3 separate regions of the Homo sapiens genome follow, and regions 1 and 2 are each linked to region 3. The links come from fine-mapping of genetic effects on gene expression. A gene starts in region 3. Each other region holds a variant in brackets. All regions are shown on one strand. Distances are between the middles of the regions.

Region 1 (6,589 bases), 80 kb after region 3:
CCCTGCAACAAATCGTATATGATATATATAATATATATACACACAATTTACGTATCGTTCATGAGTATACAGTTTACTTTTTTTATTTTTTATCCTTTTTTTGAGACCGAGTTTCGTTGTCGCCCAGGCTGGAGTGCAATGGCATGATCTTGGCTCACCGCAACCTCTGCCTCCTGGGTTCAAGCCATTCTCCTACCTCAGCCTCCTGAGTAGCTGGGATTACAGGCGCCTGCCATCATGCCCAGCTAATTTTTGTATTTTTAGTAGAGATGGGGTTTCGCCATGTTTTGACACCAGTTGTTTTGGAAAAACTCAAACTGTTTTTTTTTCTGCTCTCACACTGCCACAAGTGGGATTCAAACCCACACCTACCTTAGGAGACCAGAAAATTGTTTCAGAAAAACTCTCAAACCCTATTTTTCCTCTGCTCTCATACTAACAACACAGAAGACTTATGTAGCCCCAAAATATATGGGGATTTCTCCTCATCAGCAAGCCATCAATTCTACTGGGTGTCCTCCAGTTCAGCTCCTTCACTGTCTACCTGGAGATAGTGCCGGATCCCACAGGATGAGGGCTCAGTTCCCGACTCCCCAATCCCCGACAGGAGTCACAGCCTGGGCCTCCAGAACTGATTGACTTCCTTCAAGTCAGTTCACGACTCCCCAGTCCCCGACGTGAGTCATAGCCCGGGCCTCCAGAACTGATTGACTTCCTTCAAGTTGGGGTTTCCATGACTCCCTCTTTGGGTTTGATTTGCTAGAACAGCTCACGGAACTCAGGGAAACCCTTACTTATGTTTGCCAGTTTATAATGAAGGATATTACAGAGGATACAAATAAAGAGATGTGTAGGGCAAGGCATGGGGAGAGGGGTGCAGAGCCTCTGTGCCCTTGCAGGGCACACAGCCCTCCAGGAACTTCCATGTGTTCGGCTCTCCAGAAGCTCTACAAACCCAGTCCTCTTGGGTTTTCATGGAAGCTTCATGACATCGATATTTTTTCCACCAGGCTATGAGGTGGGACCCTCTCTGGAATGATGGTCTTATGACCCACAATCAGAGAGGTAGGGGAAGATTAGGGTCCTGCGGGCAGGAGGTCAGAGAGATTTTGTTCTCTGAAGCCTAATGCATCCAATGTTATAACAAACGAGTGTAACAAGGGCTATGGCAGTTATGAGCCAGAAACCATACAAACGTGTGTGTGTGTGTGTGTGTGTGTGTGTGTGTGTGTATGGAAAGAGAGAGAGAGACCAGAAGTGCTATGCTGGAAACTATTCTTTTGAGGTTGTGTTCACATTTTTTTTAACCAATTTAACATATTATGTTACTATCTCACTTAAGATTGGCATTGACTGTACAACAGAAAGCTGATTACAGTGGCTGAACCAAATAGGTGGTTTTTTTTATGAGTCAATTTTTCTAGGAATACGGAGCCCATCCAAGGCCACACAATGCCACCAGGCCTCTAGGCTCCCCCTTTATTTTCCATTGGCCATCTTAATAAGCAGCTTTCATTTTTTTTTTTTTTTTTTGCCTCATGATTGCAAGAAGACTGCTTCATCACTAGAATCACATCCAGATTCCAGGCAGAAAGAGAAAAAACAAAAGACAAAATCAAATGTATGCTCAGCCAACCCCATGTCTTTCAGAACTGCACCCTGTGACTTTTACTTATGTATTTTTGGTCTAAAGTGTGTTACAAGACCAATTCTAGCTCCAAGGGTGATTAGGAAAATGTGTTTTTTCAGCTGGGTAAAGTGCCATGTTTAACATTAAAAATTGCCAAAAATCAGGCTGGGCACGGTGGCTCATGCCTGTAATCCCAGCACTTTGGGAGGCTGAGGTGGGCGGATCACGAGGTCAGGAGATCGAGACCATCCTGGCTAACACGGTGAAACCCAATCTCTACTAAAAAAAAAATACAAAAAATTAGCCAGGCGTGGTGGCAGGCACCTGTAGTCCCAGCTACTTGGGAGGCTGAGGCAGGAGAACGGTGTGAACCCAGGAGGCGGATCTTGCAGTGAGCCAAGATCGCGCCACTGCACTGCAGCCTGGGTGACAGAGCGAGACTCCGTCTCAAAAAAAAAAAATTGCCAAAAATCCCTGATGGTGTTTTTGTGATGCAATGTGAGAACTTACAGGTAATCAATTTGACACCAGATAAGTGATAAAGAGTAAACTTAAAAATCAATTTAAAATTCATATCCTCAGATCTGATTTCATTAACTATCATTCAGTTTATCCTCAACCTAATTAATATGTACAACTGAGGATATTTAGAAATACTCTGTTCAGAGAAGAGAAATAAACATTTCTTATGGGGAAATATACTATAAGGCTGATAATAAATTGATTTTTAAAAATATATTTGACTGCTATGTCCTTACTGCTGTATTTTTGTTGCTTTATTGAGGTATAAATTGCACAGACAATAAATTGAACATACTTTTAGTTTGATGAAAATGTTGACCTAAGTAGATGCCTGTGAAACTATCCCCACAATTAAGATACTAAACAGGTCCATCAGCCCCAAACGCCCCCATCCCTGGGTCTGCTTTCTGTCACTCTAACTCAGTTTGTAGTTTGTATGATATTATATAATCATAGAAGATACATTATTTTGGAGTATGGGTGGGTCCGGCCTCTTTCACTCAGCATAGTTATTTCGAGATTTAGCCATTTGCTGCATATATCAATAGTTTGTTCCTTTAAATTGTTGGGCAATACTCCATTGTATGTATGTACGATAACTTTTTAATCCATTCACCAGATATTGGACATGGGTTGTTTCCATTTTTTAGCTACAGACATTTGTATGTAAGTTTTTGTGTGTATCTATGCTTCCTTTTTTCTCTTTTTCTTCTTTCCTTTTTCTTTCTTTCTTTTTCCCTCCCTCCCTCTCTCTTTTTTTTCTCTCTGTCTTCTTTGAGATGGACTCTCACTCTGTTGTCCAGGCAGGAGTGCAGTGGCGTGATCCAGGCTCATTGCAACATCTGCCTCCTGGGTTCAAGCAATTCTTCTGCCTTAGCCAACTGAGTAGCTGGGATTACAGGCAGGCACCACCACGCCTGGCTAATTTTTGTAGTTTCAGTAGAGATGGGGTTTCACCATGTTGGCCAGGCTGGTCTCGAACTCCTGACCTCAAGTGATCCACCTGCCTCTTCCCCACAAAGTGCTGGGATTACAGGTGTGAGCCACTGCGCCTGGCCTGCTTTTGTTTTAAAGAAACTGTCAACCTCTTTCTAAAGTGTTTTTCACCACTTGACCCCCCCTCGAGCAGTATGTGGCAGCTCCAGTTGCTCCATATACTTGCCTACCCTTGGTATTGTCAATTTGTACAAAATTAGCCATGCTGGTGGAAGTACAGTGGCATCTTATTGTGTTTTTCTTTTTTTGAGATGGGGTCTCACTCTGCCACCCAGGCTGGAGTGCCTTGGCGTGATCTCGGCTCACTGCAACCTCTGCCTCCCGGGTTCAAGTGATTCTCCTGCCTCACCCCC[C/T]AACTAACTGGGATTACAGGTGCGCACCACCACGCCCGGCTAAGTTTTGTATTTTCAGTAGAGACAGGGTTTTGCCGTGTTGTCCAGGCTGGTGTCGGGCTCCTGACTTCAAGTGATCCATCTGTCTTGGCCTCCCAAAGTTCTGGGATTACAGGCATGAACCACTGTGCCCAGCCTCATTGTGGTTTTTATTTGCATTTCTTTAATGCTTAATGTTGCTGAGGGTCTTTTCATGTGCTTGTTTGCTGTGTACATATATTCTTTGGTGAAGCAGCTGTTTACATTTTTTGCCCATTTTAAATAGTCATTTGTCTTATTATGAGTTCTTTATAGGATTGGATACTGGTCCTATGTTGCAAATATATGTTTTGCAAATACTTTCTCACAGTTGTACCTTTTCATTTCATTTCATTTTGAGGAGCAAAAGTTTTAAATTTTGATAAAGGAATTAATGGATTTCTTTCCTTCAAAGTTCATACTTTTTGTTTCTTATTTAGTAAATTCTTGGGTGGGCACAGTGGCTCACACCTGTCATCTCAGCCCTTTGTGAGGCCAAGGTGGGCAGATCGCTTAAGCCCAGGAGTTCAAGACCAGCCTGAGGAACGTGGCCACAAAAAATACAAAAGTTAGCTGGGCATAGTGGCACATACGGGTAGTCCCAGCTATTTGGGAGGTTGAGGTGGGAGTGAACCCAGGAAGTCAAGGTTGCAGTGAGCCATGATCACACCACTGCACTCCAGTCTGAGTGACAGAATGAGACCCTGTCTCAAAAAATAATAATAGCCTGGGTGCGGTGGCCAATGCCTGTTATCCCAGCACTTTGGGAGGCCAAGGCGGAAAGATCACTTGAGGTCAAGAGTTCAAGACCAGCCTGGCCAACATGGCGAAACCCCATCTCTACTAAAAACACAAAAAGTAGCTGGGCATGGTGGTGGATACCTGTAATCTCAGCTACTCGGGAGGCTGAGGCAGGAGAACCCCTTGAACCTGGAGGTGGAGGCTGCTTGTTCACTGATGTAGCCCCGGCACTTAGTGTTTAGCACACAAGCACTCAATAAAACAAAAACTAATAATAATAAAATTAATTAATTCTTGCCAAGTCAAGATCTGTAAGGTTTTCTCCTATTTTTTTTTCCTTTTTTTCTTTTTTCTTTCTTTCTTTTTTTTTTATTTTAGACAGAGTCTTGCACTGTTGCCCAGGCTGGAGTGCAACGGCGCGATCTTGGCTTACTGCAACCTGTGCCTCCTGGGTTCAAGCCATTCTCCTGCCTCAGCCTCTGAGTAGCTGGGACTACAGGCGCGTGCCACCACACCTGGCTAATTTTTAGTAGAGATGGGGTTTCACCATGTTGGTCAGGCTGGCCTTCAACTCCTGACCTTGTGATCTACCTGCCTCGGCCTCCCAAAGTGCTGGGATTACAGGCGTGAACCACGGTGCCCGAACTCCTATGTTTTCTTCTTCTAAATTTTATACATTTAGTTGATCATACATTTTGAGTCGATTTTTATACATTGTATGAGGTAAGGACTGGAGTTCATTCGTTGGTATATTGTTACTCAGTAGTTTCAACATTTGTTGAAAATGATACCCTAATCTTTTTTAGACAGGGTTTTGCTCTGTTGTCCAGGCTGGAGTGCAGTGGTGCCATCATGGCTCACTGTATCCTTAACCTCCTGGACTCAAGCAATCTTCCTGCCTCAGCCTCCAAAGTTGTTGGGATCACAGGAGTGTGCCACCGCACCAGGCTAATTAAAAAAAAATTTTGTGTGGAGACAGGGTTTCCCTATGTGGCCCAGGCTGGTCTTGAACTCCTAGGCTCAAGTGGTCCTGCTACTTTGGCCTCCCAAAGTGCTGGGATTACAGGTAGGAACCACCCCGGCCTGACAAGTCTAATCTTAAAATAATCTTTTGTATATTATTTTATATGTGCTAGCTGTAATATGTTATAAATATTTTTCTCAGTTTGTCATTTTTTTACTTTATGTTGGTTTTGGTCATGTAAAAAAATTTCATGTGGTTAAATTTATCGATATTTTCTCTTTTGTTTCTTGATTTTTAGTAGTAGTAAAAATTTCCCTCTCAGTTTCTAGAATAATTTATTCATGTTTTCACCTAGTACTTGTTTGGTTTTGTTTCTTTACATTTACCTCTCTGTTCCATTTGCAGTTTATTCTGCTACATGGTGTGGAGAATGGATCTAATTTTATCTTCCAAATGGCTAGCTGGTTATTCCAATACCCACATATGACATTTATCCCTAACCCATCATTTGCTTATATCAAATTTCCATAGGGGAGCAGTCTCCACAGTTGATGTTCTGACATTTGGAACTGCTCAGACCTTAGCCCATGGGCAGAGAAAACTCTGCACACAGAAGCCACATGGGGTCTCTGGGAGCCACGGTGCTCCCCACCCCTCCCCACACACAACAGGGGCTGGTGGTGACTGTGGTTCTTGACCCTCAAGCCTTAGGCGAGTGGTCCAGCTGAAATTTGCCCAGTAAAGGCCCTATTTTCCCCCCAGGCCCTGGAGCTTCTTTTGGAGGGTTCTGTTGGACTCAACAATGACACACAAAGCAGTACAGCTCAGAGCACATGCTGGCCAGCCAGCAGAGAGCTGGTGAATGAATATGCTGAGGCAATGGAAGCCATACCACTGGGTGGGGTGGTCATCACCCAGACATCTGCTGACAGTGCCGACTGTGTGGTTACCTGCAGACTCAGATGACCCACCCACAATTTTGAGACTGATGATGTCACACAAAAACATACACCCCAAGGGGGGTGTGAAAAGGTTTATTTTATACATAATTGAGGGCAGCAGCGAGGCTTCCCAGGCAGGTCCAAAATGGCTTGAGACAGCAAGGAAAGGAGGCTGGACTGGGTTTTTATTGTGGTTGGGGGTGGGACTGATGGGAGGTTCCCACATACAGGCAGGGGCTTGTGTGGTTCGAATCTTCCAGTGTCACCAGAGGGAGCACCCAGGCTTTCTTACCAGTTTCCCCAGATGTGAGCACAAAGGAAAGAGGGAGGGTGAGACTTAAACACTGACAATTATCAAACATCAAAAAATGGCCCCAGATTGCTC
Region 2 (6,589 bases), 68 kb after region 3:
ACTCAGGAGGCTGAGGCAAGAGAATTGCTTGAACTCAGGAGGTGGAGGATGCGATGAGCCGAGATCATGCCATTGCACTCCAGCCTGGGCAACCAAGAGCAAAACTCCATCTCAAAACAAAAACAAAAACAAAAATCAGCTGGGTGTGGTGGCGGGTGCCTGTAATCCCAACTACTCAGGAGGCTAAGGCAGGAGAATCACTTGAACCCAGGATGTGGAGGTTGCAGTGAGCTGAGATCATCTCAGCTGAGACTCTGTCTCAAAACAAAACAAAAAAAACACACATCAGATACATGTATATATTTGCACAGACAACTTTCAGGAAGATACACAATAAACTAACTGCCTGCCTCTGAAGAACAGGACAGGGAAACACAGTTGGAGAGAGACTGACTTTCAACCCTCCCCCGTGCTGCTGTTCTCCAAAAATGCCCATTCCCTCCAAATGTGTGTGTGAGCACACTTCTGTGTTAGCGCAATGCAACTCTAATTAGAATTCCAACAGAAGTCTTTTAAAGGAATGACTACAACTACTTGAGAATTCATAAGAAGAATGGATGCTAGAGAATAGCCAAGAATTTAACTGGAAAGAACAGAGGGTGGGGACTGCCTTGCCAGGAATCAGAGCCAAGGGTGGGTAGGAAGCCGCTGCAATTAAACCAACAAGTTGTTGACAGAGGAACAGATGAAGCCAGACAGGTATGTGGGAAATTGGAAGATAACAAAAATGTTACATTTTAGTTCAGCAGGAAATCAGTGGTTCCTTTAGTAACTTGTGTGTACCCAGATGGGATACATCAATAACCAATTTTTTTGTTTGTTTTTTTTTTTGAGACAGAGTTTCACTCTTGTTGCCCAGGCTGGAATGCAACGGCGAGATCTCGGCTCACCGCAACCTCCACCTCCTGGGTTCAAGTGATTCTCCTGTCTCAGCCTCCCAAGTAGCTGGGATTACAGGCATGCGCCACCATGCCCAGCTAATTTTTTTTGTATTTTTAGTAGGGACAGGGTTTCTCCATGTTGGTCAGGCTGGTCTTGAACTCCCGACCTCAGGTGATCCGCCCGCCTTGGCCTCCCAAAGTGCTGGGATTACAGGCGTGAGCCACCGTGTCCAGCCACCAATTTTTTTTTTTTTTTGAGACGAAGTCTTGCTCTGTCACCCAGGCTGGGATGCAATGGGGTGATCTTGGCTCACCGCAACCCCTGCCTCCCAGGTTCAAGCAATTCTCCTGCCTCAGCCTCCCGAGTAGCTGGGATTACAAGCACCCACCAGCACGCTCGGCTAATTTTTTAAATATTTTTAGTAGAGATGGGTTTTCACCATCTTGGTCAGGCTGGTCTCGAACTCCCGACCTCAGGTGATCCACCCGCCTTGGCCTCCCAAAGTGCTGGGATTACAGGCATGAGCCACCACGCCCAGCCCAACAATAACCAATTTTGGATTAAGATGAAGACCAAGTGTGAGCATTAACAGTGGCCTCATGTGCTCCTGGTCCCCCTGTCTGACATCTGCCTACCCTCAAGGGCAGAAGTGCCTTCTCTCCTGCCACACCCTGACCCTTTCCATGGGTCACCCACCAGCGCACAGATCTGCCATTTCTTTATTTTGAAACAGAATCTCGCTCTGTCACCCAGGCTGGAGTGCAGTGGCATGATCTAGGCTCACTGCAACCTCCGTCTCCCAGGCTCAAGCGATCCTCCTACCTTAGCCTCCTGAGTAGCTGGGACTACAGACACCTGCCTCCATGCCCGGCTAATTTTTGTACTTTTTGTAGGTACGGGGTTTCACCATGTTGCCCAGGCTGGTCTCGAACCCCTGAGCTCAAGTGATATGCCCCTCTTGGCCTCCTAGAGTGCTGGAATTACAGGCTTGAGTCACTGCGCCTAGCCCTGCATGCGAATTTGACCTTGGGTGAATGCACAGCTCTGGTCCCCTGGAAACCTGGCAGAGGTGGATGGTCATTCTCTCTACGGACCAATCACACCTGGGCTGTGACTCAATGATGAACAACCACAGGAAGTACATTCAGGGCCTCCCTAGCAGGTCTTGCAGCCAGTTCTCTTGACACAGGAGGTGCTGGCTTGTATGACCACGAGGCTTTCGACTAGGCTAACTCCTCCTCCTACCTGCATCTTGTGTTTATGCACCTCAGTACTCCCTGGATGGCTGCTGGATGATGCTGGCCAGCTTTTCCGAGAAGCTGCTGCTAGGCATGGTTGTCCTGTGAGTCTGAAAAGTCAGTTGAGCCCAGTAGCTCTTTTGGTACACTTGAGCTCGTGATCCCCCTTCCCTCTGACTCAACCTTTCAATATGGGTGTCTCATAGCATCTCAGACATTTAACATCCCAAACCAAGCACCCCCTCTACCATCATTTCTACCCCCAGCTTGGTCTGTGAGCCTGTGCATCAGCCTCCTTCCTTCTTCACTCCCACACTTCTATTCACCTTCCAAGCACATCCAGAACCTGACCATGTTGCCCATCTCGCCCTCCCTGCCCCATGACAACCACCCCTAGATGTTCGGCAGCTCCCATCTGGGCAGACAGACTCCCAGCACCGTCTGTCTGCCCAGCCCCTCCATCTACCTTCCTGTGAGAACACAGTGACTGTCCTCTGCTCCAAGGTCCTCCCAGGACCCCACTGGCTCCTATGGGC[A/C]TGCCCCAAACTTTGTGATTTTCCTCAGAGCCCTGCAGCCCTTTATCCCTTGGCCTGTGCTCCCCATCCAACTCTTAGAGACCTCTGCCCCACCCACCGCAGCAGCCCTGGCCTCACCCAGCTCTCATCCTATCCCTTTCTCCTGCACCAGCAGACCAAGAAGCAGGCCCAACAGAGTAATCAGTGGTCGACCTTTTTTTTTTTTTTTTAATTACTTCTAGGCTAATGATTACAAATTGCCAGGCAATGTACTTTTTTAAACTTTTAATTAATTTCTTAGAGACGGGGTCTCACTTTGTAGTCCAGGCTGGAGTACAGTGGCTCAATCACAGCTCAATGCAGCCTCCAACTCCTGGGCTCAGGTGATCCTCCCACTTCAGCATCCCAAGTAGCTAGGAATACAGGTTGCACCACCATGCCTGGATAATTTCTTAATTTTTTTTTTTTGGTAGAGACGAGGTCTTGCTGTGTTGCCCAGACTGGTCTTGAACTCCTAGGCTCAAGGGATCCTCCCTCCTTGGCCTCCGAAAGTGTCAAGATTACAGGCCTGAGAACACCACACCCGGCCTGTTTGTTGAATAAATGAATGAAGAGGAATGAGCTCACACTTTATGCCATCTGTAATAGCCAAGTACGGAGTCAACACTTTAAACTGGCAGGCATGGGAAAGTGGAGTTTCTCATACTCTTAAGAAGGCGACCTAGCAGTATTTAGGCAAATCAGACTGGCCCTTGGATAGTGGGTACCTGATAAGAATGGATGTGGGTGAGGGTGCAGATTCAAGGATGTTGCTGAGGCAAATGCTACGTTGGTCCTTCCACATACAAGTTACACACCTGCTAAAGAGAAAGATGTATGTTGTGTCAGGTCACCAGATGGGTGAGTGAAAATGCAGCATGGGGCCAGCATGCAGGGGAAAATCTCATTTTGTAAACTATGACCCCGAGCCCATGAAGGGTATGTGTGTCACAAGGACCTGGGACTGGTTCACCTGCCTCACTTGGGCCAGCTGCATTGAGGCCCCACCTATAAATCCAGATGACACACTCCTCTGAAGGCCTGGAGATCATGTGGTTGGTGAGAGGAGAGCGCTAAGAACAGGCTTGGCTCAGAGGAGGATGCTGCTGGATAAGGTGTTATTATCTATTTGATTAACACACAGAGGAAATACTCCAAAGGACAATACCAGGCTGTCAACAAGTGTGTGGCAAGGAGAAGTGAAAGGGAAAGACTGCCACCTGGGGTGAGTCTTAGAAAAGCATCACACAAAATGCAGTATCAGGTCTCTATTGAAAGATGACCATCACATATTGCTAATTAAAAAAAAAATCGGCCAGGCGCAGTGGCTCATACCTGTAATCCCAGCACTTTGGGAGGCCGAGGCGGGCGGATCAAAAGGTCAGGAGTTCGAGACCAGCCTGGCCAACATAGTGAAACCCCGTCTCTACTAAAAATACAAAAAGTTAGTCAGGCATGGTGGCAGGCACCTGTAATCCCAGCTACTCAGGAGGCTGAGGCAAGAAAATAGCTTGAACCTGGGAGACAGAGGTTGCAGTGAGCCAAGATTGTGCCACTGCACTCCAGCCTGCATAACAGAGCAAGACTCTGTCTCAAAAAAAAAAAAAAAAAAAAAATCCTATCACAAAGTCTGATTGTATTCTGGTAATAAATGAACAAAAATGGCTGGGCATGGTGACTCACACCTATAATCCCAGTACTTTGGGAGGCCAAGGTGGGAGAATTGCTTGAGTTCAGGAGTTCAAGAACACCCTGGACAATATAGTGAGACCCCGTCTCTATAAAAAAATTTAAAAAATTAGCTGGTTTGTAGACCTAGGTACTCTGGAGGCTGAGATGGGAAGATTGCTTGAGCCCAGGAGGTCAAGGCTGCAGTAAGCTGTAACTGCACCACTACACTCCACCCTGGGCAACAGAATGAATCCCTGTCTCAAAATAAATAAATAAATAAATAAAAATTAAAAAAAAATATGAACAAAATACATTTTAAAAGTGGTATTAACTAGTTTAAATTTTTTCCTTACTTACACTATGGCAGATAAAGGTTTCAGTTTCCTGGAACGAGCCTGTAACAGGATACCAGGCCAGGCAAACACCATGGACCTCAACCTAAACCTTGCATACTCAAGACAGGAAAATGTAAGAGCTATCGGGGGTGCCAGAAACTGGCTTTTAACAACACACTCCATCCACACTTCACGGGATTCTGACGTCCAACTCCAAGCTTTGCTCCATGAGAACACAGTTCAGGCAGGGAAGGAGGATGATGTGGACAGTTTTAAAAAATTAAGACAGGCTAATGACGAGTCCTCTATAGATGCCAGGCTCCAGGGCCAGGGGCTGGGACAGGCTGGAGATCACCGCCACAGAATACTGGAAGTGGAGTTTGAGGAGCCCCCTCTTGAGGCCATGCCAACAGCTAACAAATGGGCAATATAAAGAACACCCACTCAGGGCACTGGCTGAGCAATGATCCCTCCCACCCACTGGTTACAAAGGTGGCAGCATAAGGAGCTAATTTTTCAAACTCAGGAATTTCAATCTTGAAAATTTCCCTAAGGAATAATCCAAAACAAAAACAATAGATCAACGTTATTAGCAGCAACTGGCTTTCCAGTTTTCTTTAGGTGATCAAAAGCCACATCGCAGTGAGACATTCCTATCACTCTTTTTGGAATTCCTGACTGTCTTGATGTGACAAAGCAGTGTGCCTGTCATTCCAGAGGACCCTGCACATGGTCACACACTGGGACAGGCACATTTGGAGTCTCCTGATCTGGGATGAGCTTCCAGGATCTCCTCCAGGGCCACTGCCTTCTCCTGCTCCTCATCATCCTCACTCCCTGGACTTTCTGCTAACAAGCACTGCTCCCTCTTCATCACCAAGGAGCCCCTACCCGCTAGGGTGAAAGCACTTTCAAGAGAGGCAGCTTCTGAGCCACTTGTGAGCACAAGGCGAAACACTGCTAAACTTGACCTAATCTAAACTAACCCTAACTAACCTAAACTAACCCTAACCTGCAACCTTTCCAGAATTAATGATCAGAAATATGTATCCAAATTGATAGCTTTCTGGTCGGGCACAGTGGCTCATGCCTGTAATCCCAGCACTTTGGGAGGCCAAGGTGGGTGGATCACCTGAGGTCAGGTGCTGAGACCAGCTCGGTCGGGGAGACCCTAACCCAGCGGCGCTAGAGGAATTAAAGACACACACACAGAAATATAGAGGTGTGAAGTGGGAAATCAGGGGTCTCACAGCCTTCAGAGCTGAGAGCCCTGAACAGAGATTTACCCACGTATTTATTAACAGCAAGCCAGTCATTAGCATTGTTTCTATAGATATTAATTTAACTAAAAGTATCCCTTATGGGAAACGAAGGGATGGGCCGAATTAAAGGAATAGGTTGGGCTAGTTAACTGTAGCAGGAGCATGTCCTTAAGGCACAGATCGCTCATGCTATTGTTTGTGGCTTAAGAATGCCTTTAAGGGGTTTTCCACCCTGGGCCGGCCAGGTGTTCCTTGCCCTCATTCCGGTAAACCCACAACCACAACCTTCCAGCGTGGGCATTATGGCCATCATGAACATTTCACGGTGCTACAGAGATTTTGTTTATGGCCGGTTTTGGGGCCAGTTTATAGCCAGATTTTGGGGGGGCCTGATCCCAACAGTCAGGAGTTCAAGACCAGCCTGGGTGACATGGTGAAACCCCGTCTCTTCTAAAAATACAAAAATTAGCTGGGTGTGGTGGCACGTGCCTGTAATTCCAGCTCCTCCCAAGGCTGAGGCATGAGAATTGCTTGAACCTGGGAGGTGGAGTTTGCAGTGAGCCAAGATCGCGCCATTGCACTCCAGCCTGGGCAACAGAGTGAGACTCCATCTCAAAAGAAAAAAAGCAAATAAACAAACAAACAAA
Region 3 (6,589 bases):
AATCCTGCTTGAGGAAAACAGTCCAGAGGCCTGGAGTGAGCCTGGGGAGGTGCAGCAGGCAGGGCCTGAACCGGCGGACCCTCATACCCAGCTAGCCAGGCGGGCTGCCCACAGGACACTTGAAGGGTAGGAAGCGGCTGCCAAGATCTCACCCCCAAAGATGCCCAGCTGGCACAAGCCTCCAGTCTCTCTTGATTTGGCTGTTAGAGAAAAGCAGATTCTGCTTGTGGTTGTCATCATGCCATCCCAAACAGATCATCACTACAGGGAGGCACGATCTCTGTACTCTGATGGGTGCGGCATGGGTGAGGACTGACTGTCCAGAGGGCCCAGGGTGCCTTCCAGGAACACCTACAGCACCGCGACCTGATGCTCACCTCACCCCATCCCACAGCAGCCCAGTGCCCTCCTGGCAGTGCCCACTCCTCCCCAGCTCACCCGTCAGGCACTGTTCCTCCCTAGGTGTTCTCTCCACTGCATAGAGGCTTGGACCCGACTTCACGAAGACATTTTGAAACCATGCACCAGAGAGTGTGTGCATAGAATGAAGAACCTTTTGTTTGCAGGGCTCCGTCCCTGCTCTCCAGGGTCACCCAAGCATTTGGGGCCTTGATCCTGGAGAGGCTGCTCCCTCCAGGGCTAGCTAATTCCCAGAGACGGCAAACACTCCCCTTCCAGTGCACCTTTTTTTTTTTTTTTTGAGACGGAGTCTCGCTCTGTCACCCAGGCTGGAGTGCAGTGGCGTGATCTGGGCTCACTGTAGCCTCTGCCTCCTGCGTGCAGGCGATTCTCCCACCTCAGCCTCCTGAATACCTGGGACTACATGCGTGCACCACCACACCCTGCTAATTTTTTTGTATTTTAATAGAGACGAGGTTTCACCATGTTGGCCAGGCTGGTCTCACCTCAGGTGATCTGCCCTCCTCGGCCTCCAAAGTGCTGGGATTACAAGCGTGAGCCACTGTGCCCAGCCCCAGTGCACCTTTGAGACACAAACCAACCAATCCAGAGTCCACAACTATCTCCCTCCCTTATCACACGGTCACTCACCAAGCCAATATTTCCCCTGCCCTAAGTAACCCGAGGGCCAGGTACCGGACAAGAAGGGGCCACCCCTACAGCCCTGAGCCTGCCACAATTGTTCAAATAGTCCAATCGTGAGCTCACTCTGCATACCTACCCTGCCTGCCCTCTCCTTCCAGAGAAAATAAAGGCTCCGGCCAAACTCAGTCCTCTCCCCCTTTCTGCCTCCTGGCCATCCCTGGTCCTTCTCATGTCGCCCTGTGTGCCCTGCCCAGTTTCCAGGGACCCACGACTATAACTTCTTCCTTCACAACAGTCATTCTCACGTGTGCATGCCTTACCACACCTGTTAAAACAAATCCACGGGTCCGGGCGCGGTGGCTCACGCTTGTAATCCCAGCAATTTGGGCGACCGAGGTGGGCAGATCTCCTGAGGTCAGGAGTTCGAGACCAGCCTGGCTAACATGGTGAAACCCCGTTTCTACTAAAAATACAAAAAATTAGCCAGGCGTGGTGGCAGGTGCCTGTAATCTCAGCTACTCGGGAGGCCGAGGCAGGAGAATCGCTTGAACCCGGGAGCAGAGGTTGCAGTGAGCTGAGACTGTCATTGCACTCCAGCCTGGGCAACAAAAGTGAAACTCTGCCTTAAAAAACAAACAAACAAACAAAAAACAAATCCAGGATACATTTGAACTCACCTTGAGATGTGGGTGTCTGCACTCACCTTGAGATGTGGGTGTCTGCAGATGGCAAGGGACCTGTGGAGGGGCTCTGTGGATTGGAAGCACCATTGCTCTGGGCTGTCCACTCGGATACGGAGAGTGCTGTTGGAAATGCAGCACCTTGAAAGTGTCTTTGTAGTTGAGATTTTTTCCTGGAAACATTTACAGCTTGGAACTGTTCTATCTGGCCAAATATGAGGAGGCTAGAGTTGCCCCAAAAGTGGCAGCAAGGGAGTTGCCTCAAAAGACTTCCCCAAACAGTCCCGCGATGGAATTGGTTGGGATTCCAAGGAAAGAAGCTCTAAACGCCAGGGTGATCAGTCCAGAGCATTTCTTCCGGAAATTTTCACATGGAGCTTCAGCTTTCTTGGGATCGATGATGAGGCAAGGGATGCTCCACCCAGGTACATTTGCAGCAAGGGACTCTGGCTATGGAGCTTAGATGAGAGTTTAAGGGATTGGACTCAGGGCAGGGCCAGTTTCTACGTGTTTAGCAATAGGGTTGATTGTGTTTTCAAGCAACCTAAACAGCTTTATCAGGGAATGTGCCCGGCCCCATTGAACTGGGTTCAAGGCTGCAGGGAACACGCAATGGCCAGGTCCCAGAGCAATCAAAGGACTCTGTGTTTCTCAATCAGTAGAGAAAGAAAAGGGGGAACTGGAAGACCCTGTGAATCCCAATCTCAGCTAGGGATGAGCAATCCAGGCTGGCCCAGAGCATAAGCACCGTGACCATGTGAGGGCCTGAGTGTGCCTGGCTTTGGAGGGTCTGCTTGCTCAGTGGCCTCTAGACTCAGCCGGGCAGTGGATGCAGTGGATGGAGGAAGCCCCCTCGCCCCAGACAGGACCTCAGGGCCTCAGAGCCCTGGCATCTGCACCCTGGACACAAGGAAGGTGCCTATGAGGTGGATGCTCTAGCCAGGCTTTCTCCCCCTCCTGCTCCTGTGTTACCCTGGTGTGCCCCCCTCACCTGCAGCAGGCCAGGTTGGGGCATAGGGTTGCCGGCCCCTACCAGCCCTGGGGGTCTGGAGGGCGGCTGGGGAAGCAGACCCCCTGTCCTTCCCTATCCTTCGCGACATGCTCCCTGAGCAGCTGCAGTCCACTTAGATGACCAGAGAGGATGTGGGGCTGAGGGAGCCGAACTCGGGGCAGCAGGGGCGGGGGTGGGAGTGCCGGGATCATCCGCACCGGGAGAGGCGAGGCCGGCGTCTGTTTTTCACCTGGGCCTCCCTGGGGGGCTGGGGGCTGCCTGACTCTTCCCTCCTTTGGTTTGCGCAAGTTTTCCCGCGCGGGTTCGGATCAACACGCCGGGGGAGCCCGGCTTACGTCCCTCCTGGACCCCCGCCCCGTTCTTCCCGTGGGGAGGGGCGCGTCAGGCGGACCTGGCACCCTCCGGCTGCTGGGCTTCGCCGGGAGCCACGCGGGGAGGTCCAGGCAGTCGGGACGCAGGCAGCGTCCTCGCCGAGGCTGCGAGTCCGTGGCCGTCCGGGGGAGGCGCGCAGGCTCTGCCGGACGCAGAAGGAACCCGAAGGAGGCGGGGTGGAGGGCGGTGCGGGGCCGGGGAGGGGCGAGGCGAGTGGCGAGTGGACGCCGGGCCCGGCCTCGGGCAACTCCGAGGGGCGCCCTTCCTCGGGGTCCCGGAGGCTCTGCGACCCCGCGGCCGCTCCAGCCGCTCACTGGGGACAAGGCCCGAGCCAGGCGTCTCCGCGAGGCGGGGTCCATAGCGCGCCCAGCAGGCGCCTCCTGTCGCAGGGACGCGGGGGAGCGGCGCCTGAACAGCCTCGGTGGGAACCAGCGCCCGAAGCTGGTGATCCGGGGTGCGCAGGGCCCAACCGGGCGATCCCCTGGATCTCCGCCAGCCTCGCCCCGACTCCGCTCCTCCCACCCGCCAGCGAGTCCGCAACTCCCGGCCCCGGCCCGCGTCCCCAGCTCCAGGCCCCGGCCCCGCCCCGCCCCTGCTCAGGCACCGCCCACTCCGGGCTCTGGGCCCTCCTCTCCCTCGCGGCTCCGCCCCCTGCCCGCCTCTGACTGTACCCCGCCCCCAGGCGCCAGCCCCGCCTATCTGGGCTTCTGGTCCCGCCCAGGTTCTTGTCCCTCGGGCCCCAGCCTCGCCCCTCCTCGGCTCTGACTCCACCCCTTCTCCGGAGCCTGGGAGGCGGGGCTGAGAACCACAGAGATGGCCGGGCCTCCGAGCGGCCCAGGGCGGCCGGAAGTTTGCGGGGCGGGGCGGACGCGGGTGGCCAAGGCCCGTTTCCGGCGGCGTCGCGCGTTTGCGAGCCTCGGGTGGTCCTCAGGGAGGGTGAGTCGGCGCGGCGGGCGCGGACTCGGGTTGCCCTCGGTCCGAGTGATCCCTGGTCGCTTCCTTAGCCCTCCCGCCTTCGGCATTGGGGTCCCCGCGTCCCCCGGGCCTCCAGGCGGGAAAGCGCGGGGGCTTTGCGGGGCCTTGAGCGCCTGGTGTGGGAGGTGGTCGAGCCCAGCCACCCTCCCCCGCGGCGGCGCGAGGTGGGCTTCGTTTGGCCGAGTCTCGCAGCTCCCCGCAGACCCCGCTCGTGGCGGCCACGGTGTCCGGGGCCTGAGTAAGGCGAGCTCCAGCTGCGGCCTTTTCTTCAGGCCTGGGTCTACTCCCGGGGCCCTGACTCCTCCTGCGAAATCACCTCCTTCTAGAGCCTTTTCTCTTTCTATTTATTGCCCCGGAAGGCCTAGGATAAGTGACAGTGGAGGAAGGAACGGTGCCTTGGGTGGGGTAGGCTGTTTGTCTTCTCTAAATTCTGGTTGCTATTCCGGGCATTCCTACTGTCAGGAGCCAGGTGGGGGGATCAGCCTACCTGTGCCGGTGACCTGGGGCTTCCACCCACAAACCACTTTCTGGGCCAGAAGCTGCCATACGAAGACTCTTTTTCCCATTCCGACCTCCCGGGGGAATGCCTGGGCAGGTAGAGGGTCTGGGGTCATTGGCTTAATTGAGGTGAACGATTTATATCAGATTACATCCCTGTGCCTGGTTCCATCCTGGCGACAGGTGAGCTGGAGACTGGAATTTATGTACTTGAGGGCAGGGGTTTCCATGTCCACTCTTGTCTTCCCTACAGTTTGTCATTTTTGCTCCTGCCTTCTCCAACCTCCAGTCGCTCACTGCCTTCCCCAACCTCCAGTCGCTCACTGCCTTCCCTTGCTGCCGGGAATTTACCCACACTGGTTCATCCAACCCCATTTCTTCTTGCTTCAGGCCCTTTCACATGCTATTCCTGCTGCCTGGAGTGCTCTCTCCACCTCCATTACCTTGGCCGAGGTCCCTGGGGAAGTGACCCATTACACTGAACGTTCTAGTCTAAGTGGCTTTCATAGTTCCCTGTACTTGAGCGCTGTCGTGGTTGCAGTGTGCTTATTTGTGTGGTTATTTAACTCTTTCCTCCGCCAGACTGCTTCGTGAAGGCAGGGTCCTCGTGTCCACTACTGTATCCCCATTACTCAGTGCCTGGCACGTGGCATCCACTTCTTACGGCTTTGTGGAGTGAGTCACACATGCCACACACACATACACTCTAAAGAGGAACAAGAGTTCAGTGGGCCTCCTTCACTCAAGTGCCATGGCTGCTTCAGCCCAGCCCCATGTCCCTGCTAGAGAAATCTGGGGCTGGAGGTAAAGGAGCAGAGAGCACAGTACCCCCTTGATTAGCCTGGAAGTTGGGCTTCTGGCACCTTGACCTCTAATCCTTTCATAATTGCCAACAGGTCTCTCGGCCAGAACACGTGGATGCCCACCCACCACTGAGCCTCATGGTAGGAAGCTTGACTGCCTCCTTCCCCTCGCATGTCCTGTGAAGGCCCACCTCCTGCTCTGCCCACTGGCCCTGGGCCCAGACCCTACCTTGGCCCTTGCTGGGCTTAGGAAGGCCCCCTTGCCCCCAACCCCAAGGTAGTGAGCAAACCCCTGCCCAAACCAGGGCCTAATTGAGGCTCTTGAGGGGGGAGGGTTGTATGACCACCATGGACTGGGTTCCTTCCTCCTCCCCGAGACTGCCCCTCCCCAGAATATTAGAGGCAGAGGAGTCCTGGTGAGCGTCTCGCCCAACCCCATGGGGCAGCTGCCTGAGACATGTCATGAGGCAGCGCCAGAAGGGGGCTGGCACCCAGGGATTCCTGGGGTGCTGGTGTGTGTCCTTTCAGGAGGTGGTAACATTTGGCGATGTGGCTGTGCACTTCTCTCGGGAGGAGTGGCAGTGTCTGGACCCTGGCCAGAGGGCCCTCTACAGGGAAGTGATGCTGGAGAACCACAGCAGTGTGGCTGGACTAGGTGAGGCTGCACCTTGGGGCCCCTTCCCCTGCATCATCAGTCAGCACCCACCCAGCCAGGCCTCCATCAGAGGCTGGGGTATGCAGGCCAAACGCTCAGACCCTTGTGGGCTCCACAGGGGGCTTGGACTCATGAGTGGTGTGCCAGGCTGGTTCCTAGCTTTGCCCATGTCATGGGGTTCAGCCCCCAGGGAGTGGGTGGGATTCTGGGAGTTAGTAAAGCCTCTTTTTTTCCTAAGCTGTTAAATTGTGAGAAATAGAATCCAAACTTGAAATAGCTTAGACAAGAAAAGAGAAATTATTGGGTGGAGAAATCCAAGGAAAAGGTTGTGCAACGAGCAAGAGGTGGCAGCGACGCCCACACGGCTGCTTTGCAGATGCCGTCATCCCCTTGCCCCTCCTGTCCTGCCGTTAGTCTCCTCTCTGAACTCCACCACCGCCACAGGCAGCCACTGCGGTGCTCTTTATGTCCATGCCTGTGTCCTCACAAGCTGTATACTGTCGTTGGATTGCAACTTGGTGAGGGGGGGTGCGTCTTAACTTGGGCCTTG

Which allele goes with the higher level. Alleles are on the strand shown, and positions count from the first base shown. SD is a standard deviation of normalised expression in the study named. Not every link is listed here.
In carriers of allele C in region 1, the expression in cerebellar hemisphere of the gene that starts at base 3,995 in region 3 tends to be lower than with T alone (small effect, 0.20 SD a copy in GTEx).

The links. PIP is the estimated chance that this variant, and not a neighbour inherited with it, causes the effect.
Region 1: its variant is the best candidate, but not a certain one, in a credible set for the expression of ZNF7 in cerebellar hemisphere (GTEx, PIP 0.76).
Region 2: its variant is the best candidate, but not a certain one, in a credible set for the expression of ZNF7 in whole blood (TOPMed, PIP 0.71).

What each region holds. Positions count from the first base shown.
Region 1 is chr8:144,904,009-144,910,597 of GRCh38, forward strand. No RefSeq gene overlaps it. Among named protein-coding and RNA genes, the nearest start is that of ZNF250, 5.8 kb to the left of the region's middle. The variant C/T (reference allele first, on the strand shown) is at 3,502.
Region 2 is chr8:144,891,741-144,898,329 of GRCh38, forward strand. All of the region lies in intron 1 of ZNF250 (zinc finger protein 250), which reads right to left. Among named protein-coding and RNA genes, the nearest start is that of ZNF250, 6.4 kb to the right of the region's middle. The variant A/C (reference allele first, on the strand shown) is at 2,657.
Region 3 is chr8:144,823,566-144,830,154 of GRCh38, forward strand. It overlaps ZNF7 (zinc finger protein 7), which reads left to right and starts at 3,995. Exons shown (of 5, transcript NM_003416.4): 1 at 3,995-4,044; 2 at 5,478-5,525; 3 at 5,913-6,039. The coding sequence starts at 5,523. It overlaps LOC100130027 (a long non-coding RNA gene), which reads right to left and starts at 3,475. Exons shown (of 5, transcript NR_147501.1): 1 at 1,748-3,475. RefSeq lists a silencer at 3,186-4,315 and enhancers at 3,647-4,172, 4,173-4,698, 4,699-5,224.